Linked DNA regions of Homo sapiens: regions 1, 2 and 4 are each linked to region 3. Evidence: fine-mapped expression QTL. A gene starts in region 3. Each other region holds a variant in brackets. All regions are shown on one strand. Distances are between the middles of the regions.

What was found. PIP is the estimated chance that this variant, and not a neighbour inherited with it, causes the effect.
Region 1: its variant is fine-mapped to the expression of SWINGN in whole blood (TOPMed, PIP 0.99).
Region 2: its variant is fine-mapped to the expression of SWINGN in blood mononuclear cells (TOPMed, PIP 0.97).
Region 4: its variant is fine-mapped to the expression of SWINGN in whole blood (TOPMed, PIP 0.94).

What each region holds. Positions count from the first base shown.
Region 1 is chr13:113,946,322-113,954,420 of GRCh38, forward strand. It overlaps C13orf46 (chromosome 13 open reading frame 46), which reads right to left. Exons shown (of 7, transcript NM_001365455.2): 7 at 7,384-8,099. Among named protein-coding and RNA genes, the nearest start is that of SWINGN, 21 kb to the left of the region's middle. The variant C/G (reference allele first, on the strand shown) is at 3,434.
Region 2 is chr13:114,129,673-114,137,771 of GRCh38, forward strand. RASA3 (RAS p21 protein activator 3) reads right to left here and starts at 2,951. Exons shown (of 24, transcript NM_007368.4): 1 at 2,763-2,951. The coding sequence starts at 2,817. LOC107987192 (a long non-coding RNA gene) reads right to left here and starts at 1,331. Exons shown (of 2, transcript XR_001750050.2): 1 at 1-1,331. RefSeq lists enhancers at 159-788, 827-1,086, 1,377-1,876, 2,047-2,674, 4,963-5,142 and 1 more and silencers at 2,467-3,126, 3,157-3,256. The variant A/G (reference allele first, on the strand shown) is at 4,309.
Region 3 is chr13:113,924,301-113,932,399 of GRCh38, forward strand. SWINGN (SWI/SNF complex interacting GAS6 enhancer non-coding RNA) reads right to left here and starts at 4,691. Exons shown (of 1, transcript NR_047495.1): 1 at 2,214-4,691. It also overlaps a transcript of C13orf46 not described here. RefSeq lists an enhancer at 6,637-6,706.
Region 4 is chr13:113,974,854-113,982,952 of GRCh38, forward strand. It overlaps RASA3 (RAS p21 protein activator 3), which reads right to left. Exons shown (of 24, transcript NM_007368.4): 23 at 6,822-7,005; 24 at 2,930-4,569. The coding sequence ends at 4,494. Among named protein-coding and RNA genes, the nearest start is that of C13orf46, 4.8 kb to the left of the region's middle. RefSeq lists an enhancer at 4,035-4,535. The variant G/A (reference allele first, on the strand shown) is at 3,420.

The DNA.
Region 1 (8,099 bases), 22 kb after region 3:
TGGCATGTGGTTGGAACAGGGTTTCCCAGGACCCTCGGGGGGACCAGTCCCCCTCTGTGGTGGGGCATCCTGGGAACTGAAGGGCGTCCTGCAGGCTCTGCACGCGGCACACAGGAATGCCAGCCACACACACACTTGACACACAATGCTGGCGCAGGAGGACCCAGGCCAGGAGGCTGTGTGGGTCGTCAGCCGGGTGAGGTGGTCAGCTGTGTCAGGTAGTAGCTAGGCCAGCACAAATATCCCAGTGTGCTGTGGGTGGCAGCTGCTGGTCCAGGGAGGACCCCAGGGTGAAAGGAGGGCACTGGGGTGGGAGCAGAACGGGGCCGCAGAGGACGGAGAGCCTGTCCCTGTGCCCTATGGCATCGTCAGGCCACGCTGGCTGTTGGCATCCAGGCCATTGGGTCTCCTGGGTCCTCCCCTCCACCCTGGAACAGTAGAGGGGTCCGAAGCCTGGTCTGACTGCTCGCTGGCCGAGGAGGAAACCTGCGCCCGGCAGCTCTCTGAGGGTCTCACAGTTGGGGAACAGCAAAGCCACAGCAGAGCTGGGGCTCCTGGCTGCCCTTTGGAGCCCCACAGCGGCGATAGGAGAGGAAGGCCTGGCACCCTTGGGGCCGACCGGCAGGTGCGTGGGCCGAAGGCACCCGTGGTTACTGCTGGGGCTGTCTCTTCCCTCTCTCTGGCTGTGGCCAGCACTGCAGGCCAAGATGCTCTGGGAGAGAGGGGCCAGCCACAGACCCGGGGGCTGTCGTCAGCCTGGCAGCACTACAGAAGGTGAGGTGGAGCGGGAAGCCTGAAGATTCCTGAAGGGGCCTTTGGCCCTGGAAAAGGCACATCAGAGCTGCGTGCTTGGAGGAAACGCTGTATATAAAATTTGGTTCCTCAATGCTGCTGGAATCTTCCACACCGTGGCTCCAGGACAAGCGTCGGGGCAGGTTACTTACGGGGAAGGGGGTTGGGGGAGGCTGGAGCAACTGGGAGTAAAATACTGGCTGCTGCCAGGGCAGGAGGGCGGACCAACCTCAAAGGGCCCAAAAGACCCAGAACCCGCTCCAGATGGGCAGGGCAGCCAGGAGTAGGTCACTGCTGCCGTCTGCTGTCGGAAGCAGGAGTTTCATTCTGCCCACGTGGCCTCCAAGTTCCAGCAGAAGACAGCTCCTCAGGAAGCAGGGAGCTCAGGGCCTGATGGGGCCATTAGGCCTTTTTATTTACCTGAAATGATGGCCCAAGGCTGGGTGAGGCTTCACAGATGTGAGAAGCAGCTGGCATCACAGTGGGTGGAGCGGGGAGCTGGCAGCAAGGCTTGGTTGGTTCTTGGCCCCACCTGTGCAGCTTCTGCGGCCCCGGGTGTCCATTTCCACCTCCCGAGATTCCTTGGGCCCAGGCCTGTAGTGGACACAAGCAGGTCCCGGACACACAGCCAAGCAGATGCGCAGCCATGTAGACAAGGAGCCCAGGAAGCACACAGGCTGACCCCGTGACACTTCCCCCCAGACACTCACTCAGGGGTCCACACCCACCATGGCCCATCAGCCAGGCCATTGGGAGGATGACAGCATATCCATGGGATTGGGGGTCAGCAGTGCTTTCCCGACCCCTCCTCCATGATTCTGGCCTGCCGAGCACTGACTGCCCTCTCTAGGAGCCCATGTCCAGCCAGGGTGCTGCCCCAGCGCCCATCGGGGCCATGGAGCGGGGCTCAGGCTGACCCATGAAAAGCCCACGTCCTGCCACAGGGACTCAGGGGACTTCTCATCGTTCCCAAGAGATGGTGTGGAGTTCTCAAAAACCTGCCTGAGCACACATTTATATCTGGCAATTTTTTAAAAAACTAACTACTGAGGAGTCACATAGACATGACTCAGCATGAAAGGAACCAGCCCCAGAAGAGCCCACAGCACCGGTTCAAGACCAGGCAAAACTAGCAGAAGGGACCAACGTCTGCCTGGCACCTGCCTCCTGGGACTGAAGCCCAGTGACTGGGGAGGCACAAAGAGGAAACTTCTATTTATTGTTCTTGACATCAAAAATGTTAAATTACTTATGAGTGGCTTTGACCAAAACAAGTGGTGGACATATACTCGGAAAGCTACATGAGAAAGTTAACCAGGAGGCCCTGGGCTGAGGCGGCTTCAGTGCCTGGGACCCTGTGTGAGCACACCGAAGCCCACTGGGAACTGGGCCACGAAACTGACACTGCCCAGAAACTGCCAAACCAGCCTCTCACCAGGGACTTCCTTTTAACCAGATGTCTTGTCTTTGTCCCGCTTCTGCAGACACTTAGAAAAGAGCTCCGCCCCTCAACCTCAGTGGAGCGCTGAACCTCACGCTGAACCTCACACGTTCTGGTACTGCTCAGTTCATGAATTGCTGAACGCTCCAACAGACCCCTTTGAATCTCAGTGTGCATGAGCTTATCACCTAAAACTACAAAACGCTACTGAGATAAATCGAAGGAGACCTGAATAAATTAAGAGATTTGTATTGTGGTATAATAAAAAATACATCTGGTCTTTGTCCCCTGTTCCAGGGACAGAACTCCTTAAATCTTTGGAATTTCCTGATAGGGGTGTCTGATTTCATAACAACTCTTTTTCACCACATTTGTTTACCCTAATGAGGTGACTCTTGGGGGACCCCAAGGTAGCTTTAGGGTGGGAGCTTGTTGCCAGAGGAACCAACCATGTAATTAGAGAGGAACTTCCAGCCCCCCTCACCGCCCCCACTCCTGGGAGGGGCCAGAGATTGAGTTTGTGTTCAATCACCAATGACCAATGACTTAATCAATCATACCTGTGTAATGAGGCCTAGATAAAAACTTTTGGGCATCAGGGTTGGGGAGCCCCCAGGCTGGGGAGCCCCCACGGTGCTCAGAGATCAGTGCCCACCTCCCCACTCTCTTCACTGAGCTGTTCATGGGTTTCCTTCATAATAAGCATGATTGTACGTAAAGCACTTTCCTGAGCCCTGGGAGGTGTTCTAGTGAATCTGAGGGGATGTAAAGTTCCCCAAATCTGCAGTTGTCAGGAGTGAGTGTGGGTTGCCTGGGTACCCATGTACGGCTGTCATCAGAAGTAGGGGCAGAGTCTTGTGGGACAGAGCCCTTCACCTTCAGGGTCTGTGACACTCCAGGTCGTCAGTGTCAGAAGAGTGTGTGTGACTCCCCAAAACAGGAAGGGCCTTTGAGATGAAGACGATTAAGAAGAAACAGGTCCAGGAGTGCTCTCCGGATTCCTCTTTTTGCCTAAAGCAGGGCATAGATTTACAAAGACAAAGGGCATTCTGTCCCCTCTTGCAGGGAGAACAAAGGCTAAGCCCTGAAGACAGTGTCAGGCCCTCACACCCGCAGATGCCCCGACAAGCTGTGCTCCCAGCCTCTGCCAGTCCTGTGCCTGGCCCCAAGCTGCCCACAGAGGGACCTCGGTGCTCCCAT[C/G]TGTGGAGTGGGGTCATCACTCATGTCTCAGGCACCTTGGTGCTCCCATCGCCCCCTGCCTTGGGGACCTTGGTGCTCCCATCTGTAGAGTGGGGTCATCATTCTTGCTTGAGGGACCTCAGTGCAACCATCTGTAGAGTGGGGTCCTCACTCCCTGCCTCAAAGACCTCAGTGCTCCCATCTGGAGAATACGGTCATCACCCCCACCTCGGGGACCTCAGTGCTTCCATCTGTAGAGTGGGGTCCTCGCCCCCTGCCTCGGGCACCTCGGTGCTCCCATCTGTAGAGTGGGGTCATCACTCTTGCCTGAGGGACCTCAATGCACCCATCTGTAGAGTGGGGTCATCACCCCCTGCCTCAGAGACCTCGGTGCTCCCATCTGGAGAATATGGTCATCACCCCCACCTTGGGGACCTCACTGCTCCCATCTGTAGAGTGGGGTCCTCACCCCCTGCCTTGGGAACCTCGGTGCTCCCATCTGTAGAGTGGGGTCCTCGCCCCCTGCCTCGGGCACCTCGGTGCTCCCATCTGTAGAGTGGGGTCATCACTCTTGCCTGAGGGACCTCAATGCACCCATCTGTAGAGTGGGGTCATCACCCCCTGCCTCAGAGACCTCGGTGCTCCCATCTGGAGAATATGGTCATCACCCCCACCTTGGGGACCTCACTGCTCCCATCTGTAGAGTGGGGTCCTCACCCCCTGCCTTGGGCACCTCGGTGCTCCCATCTGTAGAGTGGGGTCATCACCCCCTGCCTGCCCCTCAAGGTGTTCAGGGCCAGAAGGGCTGTGTCCTGCCTCTCCCCAGAGTGGCCTGGCTTCTGTCCCTGAGGAGTTGCTTTCACATTGCCCTTTTCAGACCTGGACACAGCATTGCAACACGGAGAGTTGACCTCCCAGCCCAGACCAGCCCAGGTGCCTCTGCCCCTGTGTGCACCAGGGCTGGCCCCGCCTCTCCTGCAGGGCCCTGGGCAGCTTTCTCCCACAGCTGGGTCTGGGGTTCAGCAGGAGCCGGCGCCCAGGGGAGACACAGGAGAGACTCCCTCCCGCTCCAGGGCACGGGAGTCCTGCCGTCTCTGGTGAACCTTGCACCCACCACAGCCTTCAGAACCAGAGCCAGAGAGAAGACCCTGTCTCCCGGCAGAGCCACCCTTCCCCGGGGCCCCGGGATGTCCGTGGCGCTGGCGAGGCTTGGGAAGGCCGGGCGTTCAGAGGAACTCGGGATGTCCACGGCTGAGGGTTTTGTGGGGTCACGTGGGAAGGACACAGGGGAATTTCCACACCATTCACAGCACAGGGTTTCCCATGGGGGCTCTCTAGGCTGAGGCCTGTGGGGCCCTCATGGGCGTGTGGTCCTGGTGTGGGGAGGCCCAGCCTCTATGAGGTGATCATCATAAGGGACGTAGTGACAGCCCCGTCCCCCTCCAGCGAATGCTCAGCTGGGGAGGAGGTATGGAAATCCTGCCTTCCTTGCTTGGATCTCGGGTGTCTGTGGTTTCCAGGACGGAAACAGGCAGCCTGAGCCCTCAGCACCGGGGCCCCCACGGGGTGGTGCTGTTGGCCAGGGAGGAAAGAAGGGCAAGGTCGTCCCTGCGGGCCGGGCTGGAGCCGGGCGGGGCCTTTGCTTGTGGGAGGCGCCCGACGTCCCTTCGTGGACTGCGTGTGGATGGAACTGCTTTGGCCTCGGCTCTGCCCGGCCACACAGTGCCAGCACCACTCCCCCCCGCCGCCACCAACAGCACTGCCCACTCGGGGGAGATCCCGGCCGGGTTTCCAGACCTCAAGACTGAAAGGCATAGAGGGGCCCAGCCAGGCCCAGGCCCCAGCGCCTGCCCCAAGGCTGCACTCGCTCCCCGCCCCCCATGCCCTGCTCCCCAAGCCTCCTCCAGGCCCCAGCGCCTGCCCCAAGGCTGCATTCATCCCCCTGCTCCTCCTCCAGGCCCCACTGTAGTCACTCACAGGCGTCGCCAGGCCATGGCGCTGCGGCCCTCCCATTTCAAAGTGGTTGCCTTTTTTGCGAAACTCCACGTAGAGATGTGCTGAACTCGACTGTCTACGACGCCCAGAGGGAACGGGGCTCCAAGAGGCTGGGGACCGGCGGCACCTGCTGCTCTGTGTTCAGCACTCCGGACAGGGCCTGGCAGGGGCCACAGTGCAACGCGACCCCACTCTCGTAAGACAACCTATGCCTCTCTCCGTATATGGCACCATCTATATGCACAGGGATTGAATACATGGTCCCGTGTGTGGGCATCTAAACCCAGACAGAGAAAACTCTGGAAAGAACACACGATTGTTCCGACAGCCCCCAAGGAACCAGAACGTTGAACTGAGACTCGCCCTTTCCCACATCACCTGCAGTGAAAACACACAGAACACTTGGCAGGGGTGGGGGTGACACGGCAGGGAAGAGGTGGCCAGTGGCACGGACACAGGTGTTTGGAGCCCGGCAGGGACACAGCCAAGGTGTAGCTGGCGTGGCTGGAGGAACTGCGCCGGCTCAGGGTCTGTGCTGCTGTGTGGCCGCCGCTCCCGCCTGCCCAGGGCCGCTGTGTGGCCACCCCTCCGCCTGCCCAGGGCCGCTGTGTGGCCGCCGCTCCCGCCTGCCCAGGGCCGCTGTGTGGCTGCCGCTCCCGCCTGCCCAGGGCCGCTGTGTGGCCGCCGCTCCCGCCTGCTCAGGGCTGGGTTCCAAGGGGGCCACCTCGGAGGTGCAGGCACCATGTGGGGCTGGGCCATCTCCCCCAGCCTGGGAGGGCTCTGACAGCCTCGCTCACTTACTGGAATCTGCACAGGTCAGGGGCCAGTGGGGACTGAGGATAAAACTGAGGCAGACTGGGCCTGGGGCAACGGGGGCCACCACCCCAGGACCACTGGCCGGCCCTAGAAAGCCCAGGCGGCATCTGTGCCCCATAGGACTGAAGGCCAAGGGCAGCGTCCTTCTAGGGGGAGCCTGGGCTTCCACCCCTCCCTGGATGTCACCACAGCTGATTTGCTGAGCTCAGGGCTGTGCATCTACAGGGGGTTCCTGCCCTGGGCCCCTGCCTGGTCCACTCCATCGACCCCAGCGCTGCTGCCTGAGCCTCTCAGCCCAACGGGCCGGGCAGCAGCAGGAACACGCTCATGCTGGGCGGGGCGGCGGGGCAGAGGCAGCCCCCGGCCTCAGCAGCATCAACCACGTGGCAGGAGCTGCTCTCGGGCTCTGCGGCGCGTAGACCTGTTTCCTCAGGGATGTCTCCTGCTCCCCACAGTCTCCAAAGCCCAGCCTCGTCCCCTCCACTAAGACGGGGCTTGGCCTCACCGCTGACCATCCTGGACGCTGACTGCCGCTGCCAGGACCCTCTGAGTTCAGCGCCCACTGAGCCCTTCCCCAGACCCCCGGCCTGGCACAAGGCAGCCCCATTCCTTGGGTGTGTGGCTGCTGAGTGCCCTGAACAGCTCGCTCGGGACCTGCCCGCTTCTCTGATGGGAGTTGGGGCCCAAGCCAGGTGGCCACTCACATCCCACAGGGCGTGTGCCTGCGCCACGGAAATCTCCCTGAGGTAGGAAGGTGTGAGCCAGGCCTGGCCGCCCTGGAGTGCCCAGAATCAAGGCTCAGAGGAGCAGCACGTGGAACTTTACCCCCCGTGGCAACAATCACCTCTCCGGGGTCCCAGGAGTCAGCCCTTCCCACCCCAGCACTGGCCCTGATCAGCTCTTCCCCCGGACACTGTGACCCCCACCCCACCAGACAGTGAAGGAGGAACAGAATTACCCTGGGTTTGAGGAAATGAGCTCAGAGCCCAACAGAAGGCAAAGGCGCGTCTGACTCTGGAAGGCTCACATTCTAACAGCTAAGCCACTGCCAAGCTCCTGTGTCTGCAGAGCCATGGGACCTCCCTGTCCTAGAGGTGGCTGCCGCCAGCATACCCAGAATGAGGCCAGCCACACGCGGCGACAGGACGAATACACGGGTGGACAGACTCATGCCGATGTTTGCTCTGTGGGGGAGGGTGCTGGGAGCCACCCGGCAGAGCTGCCGCCTCCTGCCCCACCAAGGGGACAAACCAACCGTATTTCCGGAAGCTTCTCTGGGTGCCTTTCTGGTTGGCACAGTTGGAGGCCGCAACTGAGTCACACCCAACTGCCCGGCAGCCTGTCCAGGACAGCCCGTCCAGGGCCCATTTCCGGTTGTCTGGGAAATGATGACTCTGGGGCCGATGGGCACTTATCTTCTGTGGTGTCTTTCAGTCAAGGGTGGGTGCTGGCTTTGGGGGGTCCCCTTTCTCTCTGCAGCCTGGATGGTGCCCCACTTTGATCAGAGGAAACTACCCAGTGGGACAAGCTCTGCGTGGCATGCGGCTCCCTGAAAAGGGCCCCTCCCTCCCTGGCTGAGTGATGGGCAGAGCTCACCCTCTGGGAGCCTCTGCATTATCATGTGCACCACAGGGACGGCCCCCATGTGTCTCCACGGGAATAGACAGTGCACACAGCATCTCCGCCTGTGGCCTCTGACTGCCTTAGAGACACCCGGATCAGAGATGCTGCAGGTCACCTGCCCGTGCCCTCCTGTGCACATGTGTGGTATGTACGAGCATGTATGTGCTGTGTACATATGAATATGCACGTGTGCGTGTCTGAACGAGAGGGCTCTGGGTGGATTCTGGTGAAACTCGTCTTACAGGCATGTCCT
Region 2 (8,099 bases), 210 kb after region 3:
GGAGTGAGGGGGCAGGGTGTTAACTTAACCCTGAACAACACTGCCTTGTACGTTCCCACCGGATGTAGTAGACAATAATTGCCTGGCTTTTGCAAACGGAAAAATGAGGTTATGAAGGGGAAGACACGGGCCCTGGGTCATGCAGCAAGTCACTGGCAGACTCATGGGCAAATCCAGCGCTCCTGGAGACAAGGCTCAGAGGTGAATGACAGCGAGGGGCCCTCAAATCAACCACAGGGGCACCATCTTGTCTGAGCCTTCAAGACCAGGGACTCAGGCAGGGCAAGTCAGAGCCAAGGTTGGCCATGAATGTGGATTAAAGAAAGAGCCTGAGGGGCTCAGTGGCCCCCTGGCACCAGCGCCGCTCAGGGTCATCCTCCACTTCGCTTCTACAGATGGGCTTTCTGCTGGAGCCCCGGGGTATCAGGCCAGCAGCACAGTTACATGAGACTAACCCCAAACCAGCGCACCCACAGGTCACCCTCAGGGTCTCCAGCCCAGACTGCATCTCTGCTCAAATGCAGGAGGTGCCCTGTCTCCCCAGCTACTTGGGGCACAGATACCCCTCAGGCAGCCAGCCCTGCAGGTGACCTCTGGAGGGGAGAGGAAACGGGGACTTCTTGCTGGAGCCACATCCAGAGAGTCGGGCAGCTGGCATTTGGGCCTCTCTACCCGTCCTCACTGCTGCTGCCCCTGGGAGGGTCAAAGGTTCAGATGATATCCAGGCCCCACGTGGGATTAGCAGCCTAAGCCTCAGCTGAGCCAGGGTTTCACTGGCTTGTTTAAAGTGGAGCACAGAGCCTGACCAAGTTGTGGCATCTCCAAACCTCCTTCTCTCCGAGGGATCCTCCAGGGTGCCTGACCCCCACGCCTGTCGGAAGTGGGGCCGAGTGCCCGCAGGCCGGTGAAGCTGCCTTCTGGGAGACTCAGGGTCTGAGTATCTGGTCTGAGACTCTGGTCTTCCCTCGCCCTCCTGTTCTACTTCCCATGCCTTCTGTAAAGTCCTGCCGTGGCCTGAAGTGTAGCCCTTCCTGGAGTACACAGCGAGCATGCTGTGCCGGCTGTGGGCCCCCCACCCCCGAGCCGCAAAGCCCCAGGCCGCCTCTGCCTGCTGCCTGGAGACCTGGCACTGCCCCACAGGGGCACCCACCTCCAGCCCTCCTGCCCCCGTGACTGAGGAAGCCCAGTGCTTCTCACACTCCTCAGACTCGCTGGCTGAGCCAAGCAGCCTTGGCTGAAGGAAAGAGCAGCAAACTGACCCCCACGGGCCGCGACCTTTCCCCACCCAGGCAAGGCGACCTCAGGCACTTCAGGGAGCGCCAGCTCTGGCTTTCTTGTATGAAAGTGACAGCGGATTTAAACCACATTAACAAAAGAAATCCCTCCTCTCTGGACTACTCAAAGCGGAAGTGCTGCCACATCCTAGCTGCAGCGCTTCTGGGCCAAATATCAAGACAGTGTCTCAGCGATGATCCGCAAACCAAAATAAAGCCGACAGGAAACAGCCCGCTGGTTTAGGGGAGCTGGAATGCCTCCGGCAGCATCAAATGTCATCAACAACTGACACTCAGCCCGTTCCCGGAGGCCTCTTCACACGGGAAGAGGCCGGCTGCGAAGTGCGGCTCAGTGGGGGAGAAGGACCGTGGGGACCGCGACACTGCAGGCCCTGGAAGCCTCTCCAGCCTGAACCGCGCTGTGGTCCAGCACACTCATGGCATGAATATGGAACAGTCACTCCAGGAAACGGTCTTGCTCTGGGGGAGGGGGAGGACTTCCACATCACTCTCCCAAGATAAAACAACCAGGGAAAAGCAGATCCCTCCAGATAAACCAGAAGTCCAGACACAGCCTCCTCTCCGGAAACGCCTCCGGGAGCCCACTTCAGAAGCTGCTGAAGCCCAGAGAAAAACCGCAGCCTCGCAGGCCCTGGTCGCCACCAGCTCGCCCGCCACTTCTCAGTGGAAAGGGACGTGGTGCCGATGGGTCCGGGGTCTCCCCGCCCCGCGGGAGCCCTCAGCCAGAACGCCCCACCAGCACACACGCACACATGCACACACACAAACGCGCGCACACACACGCGCCCACACACAAATACACACGCGCGCACACATGCATCCACACACAAATACGCACCCACACATGCACCCACAAACGCACGCGCACACACACCGCCCACACATGGACACACAAACACAAGCACACACAAACACGCGCGCACGCAGGCACAGACGCGCGCGCACAGCAGCAGCAGCGCGCCGGGGCCTCACGCCCCTGGGGAGAAGCGTGAAGGAGCCTCCACATTCCCCGGAAAGGAAGTTTCTGGGCGCAGCGGAGAAAGGGAGATGCCGAGACCCCGACGTCAGTGGATTTGACACCTGAAGTGCAGGCGCCCAGACAGCCTCAGGCGCGCGCACTCCTGCAAACACGCGGGGCACACGCTCGGGCGCACACGCGGACAGACGTCCCTCGGCGCAGGGACCCCACCTCCTCCGCCGCTACCAGGGACCGGGGCCGCTCCGGGCGCAGAGGAGGCGCAGGGAGCCGCGTTACCCCGGAGCCGACTCGACCCAGCCCGAGGCCCGGGGAGGCGGGGAGGTGGGGAGGGGCCGCGGAGCCGGACCAGCCGTTCTCCGGGGAGCGCGCCGCGCCTGGAGGGCGTCTCCGCCGGGGTCCCCAGCAAGGATCTGCGGAGGGGAGGCGGGCGCGGGAGAGGACAGGGTCGGGCCGGGGGGTCGGACGCGTGGCTGCCGGCGGACACTCACCGATCTTGATCTTCACGCTCTGGAAGACCCGGAGCCCCTCGTCCTCCACCGCCATGCTGCGCGTCCGCGCCCGCCGAGCCTCGCCCCAAGCGCGCGCCGAGCCCGGGCAGCTCAGGCCGAGCAGGAGGAGCGGCGGCGCCGGAGCCCCGAGCGCGGCCGAGGGTCCGCCCGCCTGCAAGACCGCCAGTTGGCCGAGGGCGAGGGCGGGGACCGGGAGGCTCCGCCCGCGGCCCGGCCCCTGCTCCCAACTGGCCCGGGCCCTGCAGGGGCGGGGTTGGCAGGGACGGCGCTGGCGGGTGGCGGAGACCCGGGGGGCGCAGGGATCGGCTTCCCCCGAGGCCTCGGCCCCCGCCCCCGCCCCGCGGATTGGCCGCTGAGCGGAAGGGACCCCAGCGGGCTGCCTGGCGGAAGAGACGAAGGAAGGTCGCCGGCGCGGCCCGGGCCCGCTGAGCGAGGCTGAGCGATTGACTCGCGGACGAACTTTGCCAAGAGAAGTTCACGTACAACGATCTGGCAGGGGAGGAATCCCGCGCCCAGCCCCAGCTCCTGAGATGCGATCCGAAGGCACCTGCTGCAGACGCACGAGGGGGGCGGGGACACATACACGCACACACAGCCCCCCACCCCAGACCTCCGGCATGGGCAGGTCCCCCCCCCAAGTCCCCCTGCAGACCCCAGCATGGGCAGGTCTCCCCCCCCCCAGTCCCCCTGCAGACCCCGGCATGGGCAGGTCTCCCCCCCCCAGTCCCCCTGCAGACCCCGGCATGGGCAGGTCTCCCCCCCCAGTCCCCCTGCAGACCCCGGCATGGGCAGGTCCCCCCCAGTCCCCCTGCAGACCCCGGCATGGGCAGGTCCCCCCCCAGTCCCCCTGCAGACCCCGGCACGGGCAGGTCCCCCCCCAGTCCCCCTGCAGACCCCGGCACCGGCAGGTCTCCCCCACCCAGTCCCCCTGCAGACCCCAGCATGAGCAGGTCCCCCCCCAGTCCCCCTGCAGACCCCAGCATGAGCAGGTCCCCCCCCCAAGTCCCCCTGCAGACCCCAGCATGGGCAGGTCCCCCCCCAGTCCCCTGCAGACCCCGGCATGGGCAGGTCCCCCCCCAGTCCCCCTGCAGACCCCGGCATGGGCAGGTCCCCCCCCCAAGTCCCCCTGCAGACCCCGGCATGGGCAGGTCCCCCCCCAGTTCCCCTGCAGACCCCGGCATGGGCAGGTCCCCCCCCAGTCCCCCTGCAGACCCCGGCATGAGCAGGTCCCCCCCCAGTCCCCCTGCAGACCCCGGCATGAGCAGGTCCCCCCCCCAAGTCCCCCTGCAGACCCCGGCATGGGCAGGTCCCCCCCCAAGTCCCCTTGCAGACCCCAGCATGGGCAGGTCCCCCCCCAAGTCCCCCTGCAGACCCCGGCATGGGCAGGTCCCCCCCCAGTCCCCCTGCAGACCCCAGCATGGGCAGGTACCACCCTTACCTCCCTTTCTTCTGTCTCGAGGTCTCCTCCTCCCTGACCTCCTCTCTGAGGAGTATGTTTGTGTGTGTGTATGAACTGTAGGTGTGT[A/G]TATGAACTGAGACTACACTCCCTCCTCTATGTTGCAAAACTTCATTGCACCCAGTGCCACACACACACCCTACACATATATACACACATACATATACCACACATACACTACATATACATATACATACACATAGACACCACACACAGACACCACACACATACTACACACGTGTACACACATACATATACACACATATACACACACCCTACATACACACACCACATATACACATGAACACATATGTTCATATACACACAACACAGACAGCACACACATATACTACCCATACACATGCACAGACATACACACTAAACATACATACACACACCTACGTGAACATACACAAACACACACACACTGCATGGAGAGGAACAGGAGCTTCATGAAGATAGAGGCCTATTTTTTTCCACTGCTTACCTTCACTTCCTAAAAAGCAGTTCCATGCGTTGAAAGAATGAATGGCCTTTCTTCCCCTGACTGCTGGGAGCCTGCAGCCACAGGGGCCTCTCTCATCCTCAGCCCTTGCAAGCCTGGTGCTCACTGGGGCAGAACAGGAGGTTAAGGCGGCACCCCTGGTTCCAACCCAGAGCCTCTGCGTCTAGCGCTGGCCCTGGGTGGCGTCTGCAGTGGGTGCTGTGGACGCCATCCACACCCCTGCTTTACGACGGAGACTATGCTTCCGTTTGGAGCCACTGGAAGCAAGCCGGCTCCTGTGTTTCTCCGAGGACCAGTGGAGTCCTCTGTGGCAGCCCAGCCACAAAGCTGCTTCTCTGCCATCCCTCCACCCTCACAGGCCTGCTGATAAACTCAACGCGGATCTCGCTTTGGTGTTTGTTTCCAGGCGACAGCTGGGGTCAGGAGTGAATCTCCAGACTGCAGCAGTGGCAGCCAGGACGGGAGCCCCTTGGAAGGAAATGCACTGGCAGCGGCAGGATCTCGGGTGCTGGAGAGTTCGGGAAAGTCACAGATACATGGACTATGGAATCAGGTGGCTCGTGTTGAGGGCAAGATAATGAAAAGATCACCACCTGAAACAAAAGGGTGGCACGCTAACGGGCCTCCTCAGTGCCACATAAGACACTCATCTCCTGTGACCAGAGGAAAACCAAAACACTGGATCAGGGCCAGGACTTAACCGTGTAGAAGGCAGAGCTCCAGAGAAGGCCAGGTGCTTGGCCTCAGAAGGTGTTGTTCCAGGTTCGGGTGCTCGGCCTCGGAAGGTGCTGTTCCAAGCTCTGGACCCTGACTGGGAAGAAGAGAGGCCCTGACTGGGAAGAAGAGAGGCTTGCGATGGGGCCATCTGAATGAATGCACTCAAAAATCTTGAATCCCAGATTCCTCTAAATCTGCTGGGCCTGAAGAGGTGTCACATTTCTGTCTGTTAAGGACAAATGCTGTTTCTGTGCTTGAAGACACTGCAGAGACCTCTGCAAGGCGACACGCCTGCCACCCACCTCCAGCTCAGCTCCTCCAGGTCAGCATCATCAAGCTGGAGAAGTGCTGAGGCTAAAAACTGAGGAAGAGACAGTCGGCCAAGGAGCTTCAGGACCAAAATGCATGCACCAGCATGAGCCAGGGGTAAATGCAGAACTAGATCCAAAGAACGTTGGATTCAGGGGAGGCAGAATGTAGAGTTAGATGTTAGAATTCATTGACATGGGCGCATTCAGTCATGATACAGGGTTTAGCCCCTGGGAGGTGCTCCGTGCTGCTAGGGTGGCGTTTTCAACTCGTAAAGTAAAGCAATGTCCCACATTAAGCAGCTGTCTGTCAGGATTGGAAAAGGCACTCCTGGGGTCCAGGCTCACTGCACCGGCTGGTGGCCCAGGCCCAGACGTCAGCAGGGCTGGAGCAGGGCTTCTCTGGTGCTCCTGCTGGCGGCTGAGGTGCACAGTCACCCTCACCTCCCGGCAAATGAGCACTCCTCTCCCAGTCATGATGGAGAAAACACGCATCTCCCTGACTCACTCCTTAACCCAGCCGCAAACTTCACTGGGTTAGCCTCGGTCCATTTCACTCCTACATCTCGAAACTGTGGTCGTCTTTACGATACCACAAGAACCTGGGGGGCGGACAGTCCCAGAGAAAAAGTTTGTGCTGCACAAATGGATGCTGGGCATGACCAGAGTGCCCCACAGACGGTCGACTCAGACCCCACGTGCATCTCTCCCCAGTCGGTCCCTAAAACCCACCCTCAGTGCTTATCCAGGCACATCGGAGCAAGGTATCTGTATGTGGGGCCCCCAGCCCTCTGAGAGGCACAGGGGCTGAGCATACATCCAGGGCTCCCGCAACAAAACACAGCCCCGCAGAGCTGCCCAAGCACCGGCCTTCTCACATTTGTGTTCTAAATGAAGGATTTGGTCATTCGTTTTCTAAATTAGAAAGTTGTCTCTTAGAGCTGTGATAATATGAGCTGGGAAATAAAATACTGAGAGAAGAAAGGATCAGATGATGACCCAATAGAAAATCTCTATAATTTCTTCTTTCAATGACCTTGGTGTTACACTTTGCTCTCTTTGGATATACTCTTCTGTTCACATATCAACCCATTGACAAGTGGACATTCATTCATTTCCAAAACAGCATTATTAGATCATGTCTGAACAATCTACTTTCAAAGGATTTGAAGCCACATAAATGACCAGTACACAACGGAATAATTTTTGGAGGGTTCAAAGTAAGAACTGAAGGAAGAACGGTGGAATCAGGTATCTGAACCTGAAAGAGCCCATCCTGCCAGGTGCATCCCAAGGGGCTCACTGGGCCTGAATTCAAAATGGAGGCACGCGACCTTTTGCTCACTAGAGGTCACACGCCAGCTCTGCGTTCCCGGAAGTGCTGGAAATTTCACAGCTGTCTGTTCATGCTGCTGGAATCAACCAAGGCCAGAAAATCCCAATTTGCCCTCTGGACCAAACCAATAGACTGCTACCAGGCTCTACCAAACAGAATGAAGCAAGTCTGCCTCCCTTATCTGCATAAAGGCCAGAATGAGATCCTGGGCAGGAATTCCCTTGTGGAAGACAATCGCATGTTTCTTCTCTGGAATGCACCTTTGTTTTGTTCCAAAGGCAGCATCTCCCAGTTTGCAAACTGCTTGCTGGAATAATGTCTCTTTCCCCTTTTTTTTTTTTTTTTTGAGATGGAGTTTCGCTCTTGTTGCCCAGGCTGGAGTGCAATGGCGCAATCTCGGCGCTCACCACAACCTCCGCATCCCAGGTTCAAGCAATTCTCCTGCCTCAGCCTCCCGAGTAGCTGGGATTACAGGCATGCACCACTATGCCTGGCTAATTTTGTATTTTTAGTAGAGACAGGGTTTCTCCATGTTGAGGATGGTCTCGAACTCCTGACTTCAGGTGATCCGCCCGCCTCAGCCTCCCAAAGTACTGGGGTTACAGGCGTGAGCCACCGCGCCCGGCCTGTCTCTTTCCTTTTAAAAGAAATTTTTTTAGTGGATTTGTTGACACATGTAAGGTGAGAACAGCTGAACGTAAAGCTACACACTGAGCTTCCGGATAGCCAAGGTGAAAAGGGAAATATGGAAATATGAATCTTACACAAGTCACATTATCTGATAAAAGGAAGCATGTCAGACTTTCAGGAAAGACAGTACTTTAGCCCACAAGGCAATACAAGAAATTTTTTAGGGAATTCTTTTCAAAAGGAATATTGGACAAGTTAGGGGAGGATGTTTTTAATCTCAAATGACACTCACTACAGGGCCTAGAACATGGTAAATGCTCAATGAATGTTTGTTGAATGAATGTAGTAAAAATATAACATTAAA
Region 3 (8,099 bases):
GGATGTCTATCCTAAATGATGGGGTTCCAAAAACTCCCAGGGTGGTGAATTCATCCAGATGCCGGGAGGGAGGACGGTGCACTGCAACCCAGGTTGTTAGTCTCAGAATTGAATGGAATTCCAGGACATCCAGTTGGCATCCAAGGAGCTGGAAAACTGGGTGGTGTGGGAAATAAAAACCTGATAGGTTTGGGATCATGAGAGAAAGAGATACCCTTTAGCCACCTTCTCTGTTTCCTCATGAGAAAAGAAAGTCATGTTTATCTGAGGACTGTGAGTCCTTTTAAATTATCAGGCCCAAGGTGTTAAGATGAGGCAGCCGTCATGTCCTACTCCCCCCTGCCTACTCAAGCTGTGTATTCATCTCTGGAAACTGCTTGCTGTTGCCACAAGAGGCTATAAATTAATCGAACAATGCTACACTGGACACTGTAACCACACCCTATAGCTTAACAATATATAGCCCATCAATAGCTTATTTTTTTTTGAGACGGAGTCTTGCTCTGTCACCCAGGCTGCAGTGCAGTGGTGTGGTCTCAGCTTACTGCAACCTCTGCCTCCTGGATTCAAGCGAGTCTCATGCCTCAGCCTCCAGCGTAGCTGGGATTACAGGCACACGCCACCACACCAGGATAATTTTTTGTATTTTTAGTAGAGACGGGGTTTCACCATGTTGGCCAGGCTGGTCTCAAACTCCTCACCTCAAATGATCCGCCTGCCTTGGCCTCCCAAAGTGCTGGGATTACAGGTGTGACAACACTCAGCCTAGCTTATGTTATTTTAATGTAAATTCTTGGTAAACAACTTGGGACCTGCCTCTTCTCCCCAGAGTCCTGGATAACCCTCTCTGCCCTGTCTCCTTCCCACCTACCGCCCTGAAGGCTGCTTCCGCCTCTGCCCAGACTGCAGATGCTCCCAGGCTGTGTCCTCTGCCCGCCTCTTCTCTCCAGCCCTCTCTCATGGCAGTCCCACCTGACAACTCCCATGGCCTCCTGGGTGTCCTGCAAAGGCTTTGTCACTGGTGTCACTCCTCCAGGCCTCAGATAATTCCAGATACACAAGCGCTCTCCCAACAAGCCATATTCTCACCTCTGCAAAGCATTTCCAAGCATCTCCGTTTCCTCTGCATAAGCGACACGGCCCAGCCACCCGAGCCCTCGTTGCCATCCACCACTGGGCATCAGCTTCCACTCCCGTCTTTCTCGTGTCCTCTGGTCCAGCCCCTGGTGAGCTCCAGCCAAGCACCGCCTACTGGGCCTCTGGTCTTTACCTGTTCTGTTCCCTCTGCCTGGAGTTTTTTTAAGTAGAAAAATGCGAGAATGTGGAGTGGGAATGTAAAATGGTGTGGCTGCTGCAGAAAACACTTTGGTGGTTCCTGAAAAAGTTTAGGCATACACTTAGCATGGGACTCAGCATTTACCCCTTAAGCACACGCCCCATGGAAACAAAACCTGTTCCCTCGGAAACGCGCACACAGACGCTCGTAGCTACGTCCTTCGTAACAGCTGGAAGGCGGATGTTGGGAACAGGCCCCCCAAAATCTGGCCATAAACTGGCCCCAAAACTGGCCATAAACAAAATCTCTGCAGCACTGTAACATGCTCATGATGGTCATGACGCCCACGCTGGAAGGTTGTGGGTTTACCGGAATGAGGGCAAGGAACGCCTGGCCCATTCAGGGCGGAAAACCGCTTAAAGACATTCTTAATCCACAAACAATAGCGTGAGCGATCTGTGCCTTAAGGGCATGCTCCTCCTGCAGGTAACCAGCCAAACCCATCCCTTTATTTCCAGCCCATCCCTTTATTTCCCATAAAGAATGCCTTTAAATCTATAATCTATAAAAACAATGCTTATCACTGGCTTGCTGTCAATAAATATGTGGGTAAATCTCTGTTCAAGGCTCTCAGCTCTGAAGGCTGTCAGCCCCGATTTCCCACTCCACACCTCTGTATTTCTGTGTGTGTGTGTGTCTTTAATTCCTCTAGCGCCGCTGGGTTAGGGTCTCCCTGACCGAGCTGGTCTCGGCAGGCGGAGACGACCGGGTGTCCACCACAGGTGAAGGGATTAACAAATGGTGCCCGGTCCCTGGGGTGGGATATTATGCATCTGTGAACAGAAGTGAGACACTGATACACTGAGGGGACTCAGGGGCCACCACTGGGATGAGGCTTGGAAATGTGGCTTCCACCGAAAGAAGTGAGACACAAACGTTCGCACACCGCGTGATTCCTTTTATATGAAATATCCAAAACGGACAAATCCATAGAGACAGAAAGCAGATCTGTGGTTTCCAGAGGATGGGGAAGGAATGAGGAGTGATTACTTAATGGGGATGAGCTGTTGTTCTGGAGGGATGAAATGTTCTGAAACTGGAGAAGCAGAGGTTGCACAACGTCGTGAATCCAGCAAATGCCGCCGAAGTATATGCTTCAAGATGGCTGTTAAGTGAATTTCACTCCATAAAAGGTGTGTTTTAGAGGGTTATGCCCATGAGCGAGCCTACCTATACATGTGCAGTGTCACATTACTGAGACGATTCTGTTTAGAGCAAAGCCACCTACCTCCCACGTCCCTTTCCAGCCTGTCTTCTTAGCCACCTGCCTCCCACATCCTTCTCCAGCTTTGTCTCCTTGCATGCAGCCCTCTCAGGGCTTTTGAGGCCTGGAGGCCAAGGGTGCTGGGAGGTCCCACTTTGTACCCTCTCCCGAGAGCTTTGAGGGGTACCTGCCGCCTCTAGCTGTGCCTTCTCTGTGCCCTTCAACTCTGGAGTGAGGTCAGATCTTGGCTCTGGGGCCACCACCAGCTGTTTCAGGCTTGCAAAGTTCTGTCCGACAAAATACAGCTCCGCTTCCCTGTGGGGGGAAGCATTGGCCCCAACAGGCCTTCTTCACCAACGGGGACAGCAGTCCCTTGAGTGGAGCCCTGGACTCAGGGAGCTCTGGTCAGTGAAACTCTCAGCTAGGGGCTAAGGGTATGGGGACCTTCATATGTGGGACAGGCTCCTCGCTGGGGACGCTGCCACCAGGCCTGTGAGGCAGCCAGCCAAGTTCCACTTGCTGCAGCTGGGGCTGCTCTGGACGGCCAATCCAGACACCTCCCCCCTCTCCACCCTCTTTCCATCCTCAGGTTTGCATTTCTTAGGTCTGGCACTTCAACTGCAAAGTACAAGTCCTGGGCTATCTCCTCCTGCTCTGCTGAAGGCCACATCGATGCTTGGAAGGTAGGGTCAGCCCAGTCCCTTGCTCCACACACCCAACTACACTGATGGAGCGACCGTCTACACAGGGATCCTACGGTGGGGAGTGAGCCTTGCTGGCCTGATGCATGGCAGTGGTTCCTGCTCCAATAAGACCAAGAATAATTAATAACTGTGACTAAGTTAGAAGCTTTGGCTGCATCTGAATTCACCAGCGTTTCCAGCTCCTGAGGCCATGTGCGGTGTCACCTCACTCCTGGCAGACAGACTCCCACTCGGAGGATGATTTTTCATAGCCAGGGTCGCTCTGTGGACCTTGGATGGACCAACGTGCTTTCCATGTCCAACTTTGTCAAGATCCGGGGAAGATTCTCCAGCAAGTCTCTTGGAAACATGTGCATGTGGCCCCAGGCGACGTGAGGGGTGCAGTCTGCCTGCGTTATGCAATGCTCAGGCCAGTTTTCCCTGAGAGAGGAATGCTGCCGATCCTCTGCGGTAACCCACAAAACTCCACGGAGATGCTTGGAAGGAAAAGCATCGCGTCCTCCAGATGTTTTGAAATGTTCAAGTATTTAAAAGGGAAATGGAATTTCTGTTTATCCTTTTAAGTGACAATTATTCATTGCGTCTTCCTGGCCACAGCTCATTCAGCACTACTGCAGATCCGGCCAGACCCCCAGGAGCCGCGGCCCCTGCACAGCCAAGGCCAAGAAGCTCCCATCGTGGAGGGGGGCGCATTCCGGACCTGTGAGGCCCGGGGTTCGTTTTTATGCCTCCTTAAAGGGATGAGCCAGAGAAGAAAGTCTTCGCAAAGCCTTTGCCCCAGGAGGGGCGGGGCTGCGCAGGGCGCCTGTGGAGGCCGTGGCCGGGCAGGTGGGGAGGCTCACACACAGGCCAGAGGCTTCCCTGGAAACTGACGCCCTAGGGCAGGTCCAGCTCCTGGATGGTCGCAGGTGAAGAAACGCCAGGCCCAAGGGTCCTGGGAGAGAGAGGGGAACAGCGCCCAGGAAGAGGTGCAGGTTCCCAGGGACTGCAAGGGCCGCCGCCACCCTCCCACACCCCACCCTCGCTGCATCACCAGTCAGCCCAGGGCAGGCTGCTGACCCTCCCTTGGCCTCAGTTTCCTCATCTGTAAAATGGAAAAAGAAGCATGTCCACCTCACCAGTGGTCACAGTCACAGGTGCTGACATGGAGAAGGATTGATGCGTCCTCCTGAGTGCTGCCTTGTCATGCTATAAACCAGGAGGCCTGGCTCTCTGCCTCCCGGGAAGGTCTGTTTCTAATCCTGTGCTGGGTCTGCGTGGCTCCATGGCCTCAGAGGCTGACACCGAGTGTGGTGTCCCTGGGTCACCGTGCTCCTTGGTTTGGTCCAGCAGGAGAAAGGGCAGCCTGCCAAGGAGAAGGCTGTGAGCTTGGCAGGGGAGAACTTAGGCGCTGTGCCTTTGGGAGGCTGGGATTTAGATCACAGCTGGGAAGCTAAGTCCTGACTGCACTGGCCGGAACCAATGGGCTCCAGTAGCCGGATGCTCTGCCAAGTCAGGAGGTAATAACCGCCACGGCCTGGGAGAGAAGCTGGCACAGCCGTGGGCCCCTGCCCTGCGGTCTGGCCTCGCAGGTCCCCAGGCCGTGTACAGACACTGTGCGGCAGGGAAGCAGAGGCAGCCATGGGGAGCAACCCTGTTTCTCAGTGCTACATGCCTACTCTCCCTGAGCTGATGTCTGGAAGACAGTAAAGGAGACCTGAGGCAGTGCTGCCCCTCCTTCCGTCTGCCACCTCCTCAGGGCTGGCCCAGGCCCTGCAGAGCAGGTGGTGGTGGCTGCTGGTGGTAAAGCCCGTCCATCCAGAGCCTCGCTCTGCTCCCAAACCACCCACCTCCCGCTGCACATGTGGCAGCTTCAGGAGCCTGGCGGGGCTAAGAGGAGATGACAGACCCCAGCAAGGACAGGCTCAGCTTCTTGGGGACCGAGTCATTGCCTGTTGCTTCTCCTGGGGGCCTCGACTGTCCGAGTGTGTTCAGGCACACGGTGCCCTGTCTGTTTCCCAGGCACTTGGGCCAAGGCTGGACAGGGAGGTGCCATGTGGGACGAAAGCCCAGGCTGTGCAGTGCTGGTCACCGGGAGTGACCATGGGTGAAGTCGCGCTGTGAGTGACTGCCTGTTATCACTGACCACGCAGGGCCATCCTGGGTGACCCGCTGTGCCACAAGCAACTGGTTCACATTGGAGCCCCCCTCTGGAGCCCTGGGCAACCCGCTGCCAGTGGGCCTTTCTCCTGAGGCCCCTGGAGTCCCGGAGCATCCCGTGAGTTCATCTGCCATACCTGTGATTGCCATGTGGGCCCAGCGCCCTCCAATGGAAAAGCTGCATTCAGTTCTGCCCGAGGATCCCAGGCCTACGACACTGTCCTCAGGCTGCCAGGGAGCAGGAGGCTGTGGGGATCTGCGTTCTTGCCAGGCCTGGGAGCAGCAGCCAAAAAGTGGACTTACGTGGACAAAATGTTGGGCCAGGGAGGAGCCCTCGGCTCTGGACGGATGTCTCTGGTGCTTTTATGCCACGTGCATTTCTGCAGATTTGATGCCCGGCAGCCAGCACTGGGCTGTGGCCATGGTGGTGAGGCAGCCTTGGGTCTGCACGAGGCTCGGAGGCCTCCAGGAACCTCCCAGGAATGTGACTGTGCCTGGAGAGAAGCGCCATCTGCACGGCGCAGTCCAGATGCTTCTCTCCTACAAGCCCATCATCAAACACACAGCTGCCCAGACTTCAGCAGGATTTGTGCACAAGAAACGCAAAGGCACAGTCCATCGGGTGAGGCAGAGGTGGAAGGAGCACCGGGGTGGGAGTGGAGGAGCACCGAGGTGGGGGCGCAGGAGCACCGAGGCGGGGGCGCAGGAGCACCGAGGCGGGGGCGCAGGAGCACCGAGGCGGGGGCGCGGGAGCACTGAGGCTGAGCTGTCTCTAGTGATCTCTCAAGCCTCAGTGCAGTGGCCACAGGGCAAGGTGCCTCCTGGTGTGTCCTCGCCTCCAAATCAGGCTGCTCCACTTCCCAGGTCAGAGTCCTGGGGGGTTGTGTTGACCCTGAGCCCCCACGAGCATCCAATCCAGCAGAGCTGGAAGGACCCAAGAACCTGCATTCCTCATGGCTCCCATCATGCTTCCGGTCCAGGAGCCACCATCCAGACCACACTCCCATTCATCCCCTGGCCACGGAAGCTGAAGCCTTGGTTTCCCCACCTGTAAAGTGGGAGTATCAACATCACCCACATCAAAGGGCCTGGATTAGATGCGGTGATGCCCGTGGACTTTAGCAGCCCCGGTCCTCCAGGGGCCCTCCCAGGGAGCTGAGGCCCGGGTGGTCCTGGCGGCCGCTCCTTCTCCAGGCCGAAGACAGGAAGGTCTCTTGGGCTGACCTCAGGCAAGAGGCGGGGTGGGTCACGGCCTCCAGGGCCAGGCTGGGGCCTCCACAGAAAGCCCGTGGGTGGCGAGAGGGAGCCGGCTGGGGTGACTGAGGGTCGCTGGGTAGATGAGGGAGGGACCCGGGGTTCTTGTGTTCACGTGTGTATTTGCCCCGTGTTTCTGCTGACATGCCACGTGTGCAACAAACAGGCTTGGCGAGCCATCCCCACCACCCAGGCCGAGACGCCAGACGTGACTGGCACCCCAGGGTTCCCTCCCGGCCCCCAGAGGTAACCCCAATGCTGGTTTACCACAGATGACTCATTCTGCCTGTTTTAGGGTTTTGAGTAAATGAAACCCAACAGCGTGCAGTCTTTTTGCCTGGCTTCCCTTTAACCACGTCTGAGAGGCTCACTTTGCGGTTGCTTCTGTGGCTCCTGGACAGTTTCCCTTGTGCGGACACAACTCAGTGAGAGCACCCCTTCTTCCATTTGTAGACTTTCCAAATAGTCCAGGCGAGAGAGGCTCAGGTCTTGAGTTCAGGGAGGGGCAATGCACAAGCAGACGCCAAGTGGAAGGGAGTACACCCCTCCCTTGGCGGGGAGGCCCTCGGGCTGGTGGGGATGAGCGCCCCTCAGACGGCACCTGCGGGTGACAGGGTGTGACATTCTGCTGTTTCTCGGAAGTAACTCGCAAGCAGCATGGGGGTTCCTAGTGTGTTTCACAGACTCTCACCAAATGTTAGGGTTCACTCCTTGTCCTACAGCTTAAATACACCAAAAGTGAGAAAATTACGAGATAACATTTCCCTCAGAGACCCATATTCTGTGTTAAAGAATTCTTCCTTCTACCTAAATCCATCTCTTTACGGTCAGATGTCATTGGTTGTGGTATTTTGTCCATTTTCAGCTTTGTTTAGATTTTTTTGACATGCAATTAAATGCCCATATTTAAGACGTACGGTTTGATAAGTTTTGACATTCTGCTGCACCCACAGAGCCATGACCACAATCGAGACCATGGACATCCCCTCCCCCAGGCTGGCCCCTGCCCCGTCCCTCCACCCTCCTGCTCCTCTGATGACACTGACCTTTCTGTCACTGTAGATTAATTCATTTCTGTCCTGGGTAACACAGCGTGTATACTCTTATTGCCTGACATTGTCTCACAGTGTAATTATTTTGAGATTCATCCAACAATTCATCCTTTCAATGCTGGGGAGCACTAGTTGCATGGGTGTATCATAATTGGTTCATCCACTGACCCGTGGAGGACGTTCAGGTTGTTTTGGATTTTGGTGATTACAGGCAAGGTTGTTGTGAACGTTTACGACACAGTCTTTCTGTGGACGTTCCCAGAACAGACATGTCTGGGTCACATGGTGACTCTGTGTAGCTTTTTAAGAAATGGCCGAACCGTTCCCTGTGGTTCTTGTGTTATGATCCTGCCAACATGCTGCGCGCTCCAGTTGCCCCACATCCTCGCCAGCCCTTGGCAGGGCCACTT
Region 4 (8,099 bases), 51 kb after region 3:
GGTGTCTCGCAGCGCTGGTTACCCGAGGCCTCTCTCCTTGGCGCGAAGATGACGTATTCCGTGTCCTCACGTGGTGGTCCTGTGTGCTGCGTCCTCGTCTCCCCTTCTCATGAGGACGCTGGTCACACTGGGTCAGGGCCTCGCTTTACCTTGACAATCTCTACAGCTCCACGCCCAAGTGCAGCCACACCCTGAGGTCCTGAGGGTCACAGGGTCACAGCTCCAGCATGAGGATTTGCCGGGACAGAGTTCAGCCTGTACTGAGCCGAACAGAAAATCCCCGGCACGCTGTCTCCTCCAGCCTCCAGACCACGGTGGGTGGGGAGGCAACATTTTACCTCTTGGGGTTTTTTGGTCGGGCCTGATAATTAAAATCAGCAGATGAGCTGGAGAAAGGCACACGCACTCCAGCACGGTCTGTGTGGCCGGGAATGGCCTTTCCTTCCTGAAAGAGGAGGTAACACCCCACGGGGAAGACGCTCTCCAGAGCCAGAAGAAAGCAGCGTTCTTATCCTTGTGGATGGCTGTTTCAGCTCAAAACAACCCTTACAACAGTGTGGCTTATTTGGGCAGCCCCTTCTGCCCCTTGACAGGCACCTCGCGAGCCGGCGCACCCCCCCGCCCCCAGGACCCGCTTCCCGCACCCGGGGCTCCTCAGCCAGGGGGAAGCAGGTGTGACCCCCAGGCTGCAGGCTCCCCTCCTTCTGATCTCTTCTTTTGAAGAGCCCACAGCCTCTCAGCACCCAGGAGGCCTCAGCTCTCTGGGCAAGTGGTGGGTGCAGGGTGGGGGCCTTGGCCTCACACACGCTCTGGCACTGCCTGGCCTCCTGGGACGGTTCCTCAGAGGCACCTGCTTTGGACACTCTGATGTCGGGAGCCCCGCGGATGCTGCCAGGATGGGAGAGGAGGCCGCTGTCTCTCTCCAACAAGTGCTGGGTCGTCTGGAGCAACAAGGGCAAATGGGCGTCACTGGGGTCTCCACAAAGCCACCTGCAGTCTCTTGGTGGGTGTATTAGACAGTTTCCATGCTGCTGATAAAGACATACCTGAGACTGGGTAATTTATAAAGAAGAGGTTGAATGGATTCAGTTCCACATGGCTGGGGAGGCCCTGCGATCATGGTGGAAGGTGAAAGGCACGTCTTACATGGCAGCAGCAGGAGAGAATGAGACCAAGCAAAAGGAGAAACCCTCATAAAACTTTCACATCGGATCTCGTGGGACTTATACCACGAGAACAGTATGGGGGAACCGCCCCATGATTCAATCACCTCCCACCAAGTCCCACCCACCACACAGATTCAATCACCTCCCACCGGGTCCCGCCCACCACACAGATTCAATCACCTCCCACTGGGTCCCGCCCACCACACAGATTCAATCACCTCCCACCGGGTCCCGCCCACCACACAGATTCAATCACCTCCCACCGGGTCCCGCCCACCACACAGATTCAATCACCTCCCACCGGGTCCCGCCCACAACACAGATTCAATCACCTCCCACCACACAGATTCAATCACCTCCCACCACACAGATTCAATCACCTCCCACCACACAGATTCAATCACCTCCCACCGGGTCCCGCCCACCACACAGATTCAATCACCTCCCACCGGGTCCCGCCCACAACACAGATTCAATCACCTCCCACCACATAGATTCAATCACCTCCCACCACACAGATTCAATCACCTCCCACTGGGTCCCACCCACCACACATGGGAATTATGGGAGCTGCAACTGAAGATGAGGTTTGGGTGGGGACACAGCCAAACCATATCAGTGGAGACGCGCAGGGGCTTCCGGCCCCCATACACTCCCACCTCCCACTGCCCTGTAGGACTCTCCTGGCTGTTCCAGAAGGGGCTTCCATTCTCCACGTTCCCTGGGGCCTCGTCCTCCTTGCCCTTCTACTTCCTCTTGGAGGGGCTGACCTTGGCCCTCCTGGGCTGACCCCAGCACAGCTGTGCCCAGAGTGTGAACGGAGCCCCCTGGCTCCCGACACTGCCTGAGGCCCTGCCGGGAAGTGTGGCTCCAGGAGGACGGGCTGGCCTCCCGGGGAGGATGCCCCCACCTGCAAGGGTTTGTCCACCACCCATAGCCACTCCTGGACTGGGGCAGACCCCACACCTCAGCATGGACTAAGGAGGCCGGCCAGGCTGAACCAAGCCTCACCCTTCCCTGGGAGAAAGGCCTGGGTTGGTGTCCCCAAAGCCACACCTCCTCATTTTTCTCATACCAGAGCTGACTCACAATAGAATTACCAAAAAAGAGGAATTCAAATGGAGCAAGGAAAGGAATAAAGAAATGAGGCAACGTATCATGGAGTCTTCACCCAGAGCCCCCCTTAACCCTCTCCTGCCTGGAGGGACAGCAGCCACCTGCCTAGAGGCGCAGTCCGTTCTCTTCTCCCAGGGCCTCCAAGTGGCCTCCCCCTCTGCATTCCTGGAGATGGCAGCACGTGGTGGTCTGTCTGCCCAGCACTCCTTGAGTGGACACACCTTTCCTGAGGTTATCACAGGGCCGGACTCTCACCTGAGGCACCACAGGTGAATGCCACTGTCAGAGCAGCGCTGCCCATCACCAAAGATGTCAACTGTCACCAGTGATGTCACCTGTCATCAGGGCGGTGCCACCTGTCAGAGCAGCGCTGCCCGTCATGAGGCGTCAACTGTCACCAGCGATGTCACCTGTCACCTGTCAGAGCAGCGCTGCCTGTCACCAGAGATGTCACTTGGCATCAGCAATGTGACCTGTCATCAGGGCAGTGCCACCTGTCAGAGCAGCATCACCCATCACCAGGGACGTCACTTGGCATCAGCAATGTCATCCTGCTCCCCAGGTGCCACCCTCCTCCCTGTACCCCCCACCCCTAATGCCCACATGTGCAATTCCCAGTGGGTACCACTGGAAAACCAAGGCAGTCCTCAGAAAGAATAAAACATCTGTTTTAATTGGCCAGTAAAATACATTGCAAATCATTAGTATTTTATAAACAGAAACATTAAGTTATAAATCCATGTTAAAAATTGCAGCTCAGTGCAGCCCCAACAGCTGTGTGTCCAAAAGTCTATTTTTACAACATTTTCCTCCAGTATTTTTGTGACAAGAAAGTTCCTATCTGCCATCTAGATCAAGAGCCTGAACTACAGTATTTTCAAACAAGAACCGGGAGAAGTCGGTACAAGGATACGTCGTGCTGTGTATTTAAACGGCGCTTCCCACACACCTGCCGTCTGCATCCCGGGAGGACGCCCTTTGGGAAAGGCCTCCTCGGCAGTGTGAGGTCTGGAGGGGTCTGCCTGGACCCCATTTTTAGGATGCTCCCCTCCCCAATAAAACAGCAGCCCCCGCCCCTGCCCTGCACAGCATCTGGGGGTTCATAACACAGGTGCAATACTGACCATGGGCCCTGGA[G/A]GGACGTCTGCACCCCGAAGCCCCTGTACCTCAAACTCAGAGTTTCTTCCCTTCTTTGATTTTCTGGAGGACCTGCAGCTGGCCTTCCTGAGACAGGCTCCATTCCTGTTCCATTTGCCTTCCCGGCAGCCTTCCCTTTAGTGGGTATAGGTTTTGACGTTCTGAGTTACTTTGTATCAAAGAGCTAATTAAAAATGGTCCTTCAAAAACATAAAGAAAAACAGCTTGAAAAATGTACATTTCTATTTTTAAAATCTTCAAACTTCCACGGGGGGTGGCAAATGTTAATTCTGATTTTAAACCCCATTCAACAGCAAAACGATGTGGGCTTCAACTGTGGGCTCCGCAGACGCCTGGAGAAGCTGGAGCCCACACCTTTCCCTCCAAGGGACTCTGTGGACAGAACCCGTATCCCCCAAGCACCAAGGACATCCTCAGACTGGGACTTCTGTGTAATTCTGCACCTCCCAGCCATAAAACTGACCCCTCAGCCAGGAATCAAACGAACCTCGAAAGTGGAACAGGGAGGCCGCCTCCCATGGCTGCCTGGATGGCAGGCACAGTGGGAGAGTAATGCTCTGAACCTCCCAATGTGATGAAGCCGAAAGCCGAGGCGGGGCCAGCAGGCCTCCCGGGCACAGAGCCACAGAGCCCAGCGTCACACGCACCGTGCACGCAAGACAGACGTGCACGAGACTGACGCACACACGGCCGGAGGTGCATGTCACAGTCGACTAGACGGGCCGTGGCTCCCTGAGGCTGGCTGTGGTGTGGCTAGGGCACAGCCCACACTTCCTGATCCTTCAGCTGATCCCCAGATCCCCACAAACAAGGAGCAAAAAGCACAGAATCAAATGACGACACGTTCCACAGGGCCAGGTGGGCTTTCTGCGGAGGGCGTGGCGGTGGTGGCAGCGGTTCTGGGAGAGGGAAACCCCAGCGCCACTTGTCTATGGGCCGGGACGGCGTGCATCTCACTTTGCCGGCTCTGCGCTCTTCCTTCTCTTCTCCCTCCCAAAGGCTGCGGCTTTGCATGGGCAGCTTGCTGGCGCCACTGGGCGCGTCCCGCAGACTTTAAATGGAATGAGTGGAGGTCTCGGACTGCTGCCGGATGTAGTTCTGGAAGCTCTTGTCTCCGATGGGGTGCTCCCTGAAAAGGGGGATGGGAGAGGGAATGAGGCACAGACCCCGTTGCCTGGTGCTCACCCGTGGCTGCGGGAGCTTTTCCTGTTCCTAAATGTGACACACTCACACTGCAATCCACACAAAAAATAGAGGAGCCAAAGGAACCACAGTGCCCCCGGAAGCACCCACGGTGACTCTGATGTGTGTGCACAGGTGGGTCAGGCGTGCAAGTACATGTGCACGTGTGCTCTCCCTGTGGCACGTGTGTAGCGCATATACATGTGCAGATGTGGAATATGTAGAGTGTATGGCACGTGTGCAGAATGTGCACATCTGCACTGCAAAGAGTGTGCTCATGTGTGGGGAGCATGAGCTCCAGGGACACAGATCTGTCCCAGTGCTGGGACACTCAGCAGGCGTGGGCACCTCCTCCCCACATGCACACCTCCCTCATACCATGTGTGTGCACCTCCTGCCATGTGTGTCCACTACCTCCATGTGTGTGCACCTCCTCCTACGTGCCTACCACCTCCATGTGTGCATCTCCTCCCACGTGTGTGCACCTCCTTCCACGTGTACCTCCTCCCATGTGTGTGCACCCCTCCGTGTGTACACCTCCCACGTGTGCACCTGTGTGTGCACCTCTGTGTGCCTCCTGTGTGCACCTCCTCCCATGTGTGTGCACCACCTCCCACGTGTGTGCACCCCTCTCGCATGTGTGCACCTCCTCTGTGTGTACCTCCTGCCACGTGTGTGCACACCTCCTCCCACGTGTGTGCACCTCCTCCCACGTGTGTGCACCACCTCCTCCCATGTGTGTGCACCTCCTGCTGTGTGCGCCTCCTCCATGTGTGCCTTCTCCCACATGTGCGCACCTCCTCCCACGTGTGCACCTTCTGCCATGTATGTGCACCTCCTCCGTCTGTGCCTTCTCCCACATGTGTGCACCTCCTGCCATGTGTGTGCGCCTCCTCCGTGTGTGTGCCTCCTCCCACGTGTGCACCACCTCCTCCCACGTGTTCACCTCCTCCGTGTGTGCACCTCCTGCCATGTGTGTGCACCTCCACCCATGTGTGTGCACCTCCTGCCATGTGTGTGCATCTTGTACCATGTGTGCCTCGTGTGCGCCTTCTACTACAACAAACAGCATCATGCTTCGCGCATTTTCAACCTGCTGGCTTTTGGCCATGAGGTTGATGGACCTGCTGATATCAACGAGGCAACATATTTGGAAGGCAAATGGGGCTGTCTCCCCAGAAGGGTGTCGAGAGGGATCTGATATGATGATGTCAGAGGTGAAGTCACAGCACTCAGGAGGTGTTGCAGGCTCAGTCCCCTGAGCAACTCGGTCCAAGTCCGGGCCACAGGGACCTGTCACTCTCCTGGAGCCTCACCACTGCCCTTCCCAGACCAGACCCGCATGGTGGAAGGAAGGAGGGGTTAAGAAGGAAGGAAGGGAAGGAGGGAGAAGAAGGGTGGAGGAGGAGAGAGGGAGGATCGAAGGGAGGGAGGACCAAAGAGAGGAGTGAGCAGGAGGATGGAAGTGAGGAGGAGGCTGTACAGCTACACAGGGCTCTAGGGCTTACCCGCCCCTGAATGAGCCCGTGTGGGGGCTTCTGCCATGGTGGACCTGGGTACCCACTGGATGGAGAGAGTGACACAGACACATCTGCTCACTCCAGGCTAAGAGCCAGCCTAGCACTTTACATAGTTTAAGTCAATCTTCCAGCAACTCATGAGGGTCTTACAACCCTCTGTTCCATGGAGTGAGGGGGAGTGGAGCTTAGCTAAGCGCCACCTAGCCTGCAGCTGGTGACTAAGCTGAACGTACTCAACCTCGCCACACCTGCCTCATGAGACAAGAGTGGGTTTCGTCCAGAGCTGGCCCTGCTCCCGGGCACCATGGGTGGCCTGGAGAGATGCCAGAGGGTGTGCCACTGAACCAAGGCAGAACAAGACCTGGGCCTAGAGACTGCCAGAGCACGTGACACCAGTATAGCAGAGAGGCTGGGAGGAAGCAGGTCAGGGAGGCAGCCCGGACGCTGGCTGGGGGCCTGGAGAGCAAAGGCAGCACCTGCTCTGAAGGAGGGACCAGCAGCGCCGGGCCACGTCCACTGACTACCGCCAGGTGCCAGCCCGGTGCAAGTGGGACTCTCCTCCCAGGCGGACACCTGAGCACGGGCGGCCCCACCCGGGAGCTCCCTGCAGCCCCACCCCCACTGCAATCTCCCGCCCACTACACTGGCCGTCCAGGGCAGGCACGGGAGTGGCACTCACTGGCTTCCATATTTCGTCTTCTTGAACTTGTCCCTCTTATACTGGGCGTGCTCCTGCTCCAAAGCCCCAACCCCAGCGATGACTTGCTTTAGCGTCTTGTAGGTCTCCTGGGGGTCGTCAATGACGAACGTCGAATACTCCTCCTGCTCCGGGCCGTCATACACAGATTTGCTCCCACAGGCCTCTGTGGAGGGCGGAGGGGTCAGCGCAGGGCAGGAGCCCAGGCCACCGGCCCCGTCTCCACACAGCTGCGTCGCTGCAGGCCCCACCCACAGTACACATCCTTCCAACGCAAGCTCCTCCAGAAAGGGCTGACCACCACTCGTAAACGCAGACGGAGATAGAAACCATTCCCGCAGGTAGGCGAGTTGTGCCCACACTGAGCCCAGGGAAAGCCCATTGGGAGCTGGATGCTGAGCAACCTCATTCACCTCTGAGGGCTCTGCTGCCCCTAGCTCCCAGCCTTGTCACCAATCAGCCATTCTCACAGGGGGATGTGCACATCTCTGCACGCCCCACCAGCCCGCCCAGCCAGAACCAGGAGGAGAGACACCTGCAGCTGGACGCTGGGCTGGCTCATGGGCCCTGGGGCAGCCCTGAAGAGTCAGCTGAGGGAGTGAGCACGATGGGGTTCAGCACATTTCACACCCAGCTGCCACTGAGCATGTCCAGCCAGGACAGGCCTAGCCCAGGGCTGGCCGAGCACAGGGCGGACACCAGTCTGTGCCGCAGCTTCTAAAGACCACTGCCCCGGACCCCACCTACGCACCGGGGCCACCTTCCTAATCGGACCACATCACTCCTGCTGAAGGCCATTCTGGTGCCTCGCCCCTAGCGGACAGCCATGGAACCCTTGAGCCAGGGCAGGGCCCTGTGCCACCTGAGTCCAAACACCTGAACCAGGTACACGTCTCTGCCTCACTGCTCACAGCGCCTGGGCACGCACTCCCGGAGCCAGCACCGATGCCCTGCAGCTGTGTCCATCTGGATGGAATGAATGTTTGTGCCCCCAAATCTGTGGGTTGAAATCCTAACTCTCAAGGGATGGCATCAGGAGATGAGGCCTTTGGGAGGTGACAAGGCGTGAGGGTGGAACCCTTGTGCAGGGGATGGGCGTCCCTATAGAAGACACCAAGGAAGCTGGCTTGCCTCTTCCACATGTGAGGACACAATGAGACACTGGCGGGCTGCAGCCCAGAAGAGGACCCGCAGTTAAACCAGCACTGCTACGCCCGGATCTCAAGCTTCTCAGGCCTTCAATCTGGGAAGTGAATTCCT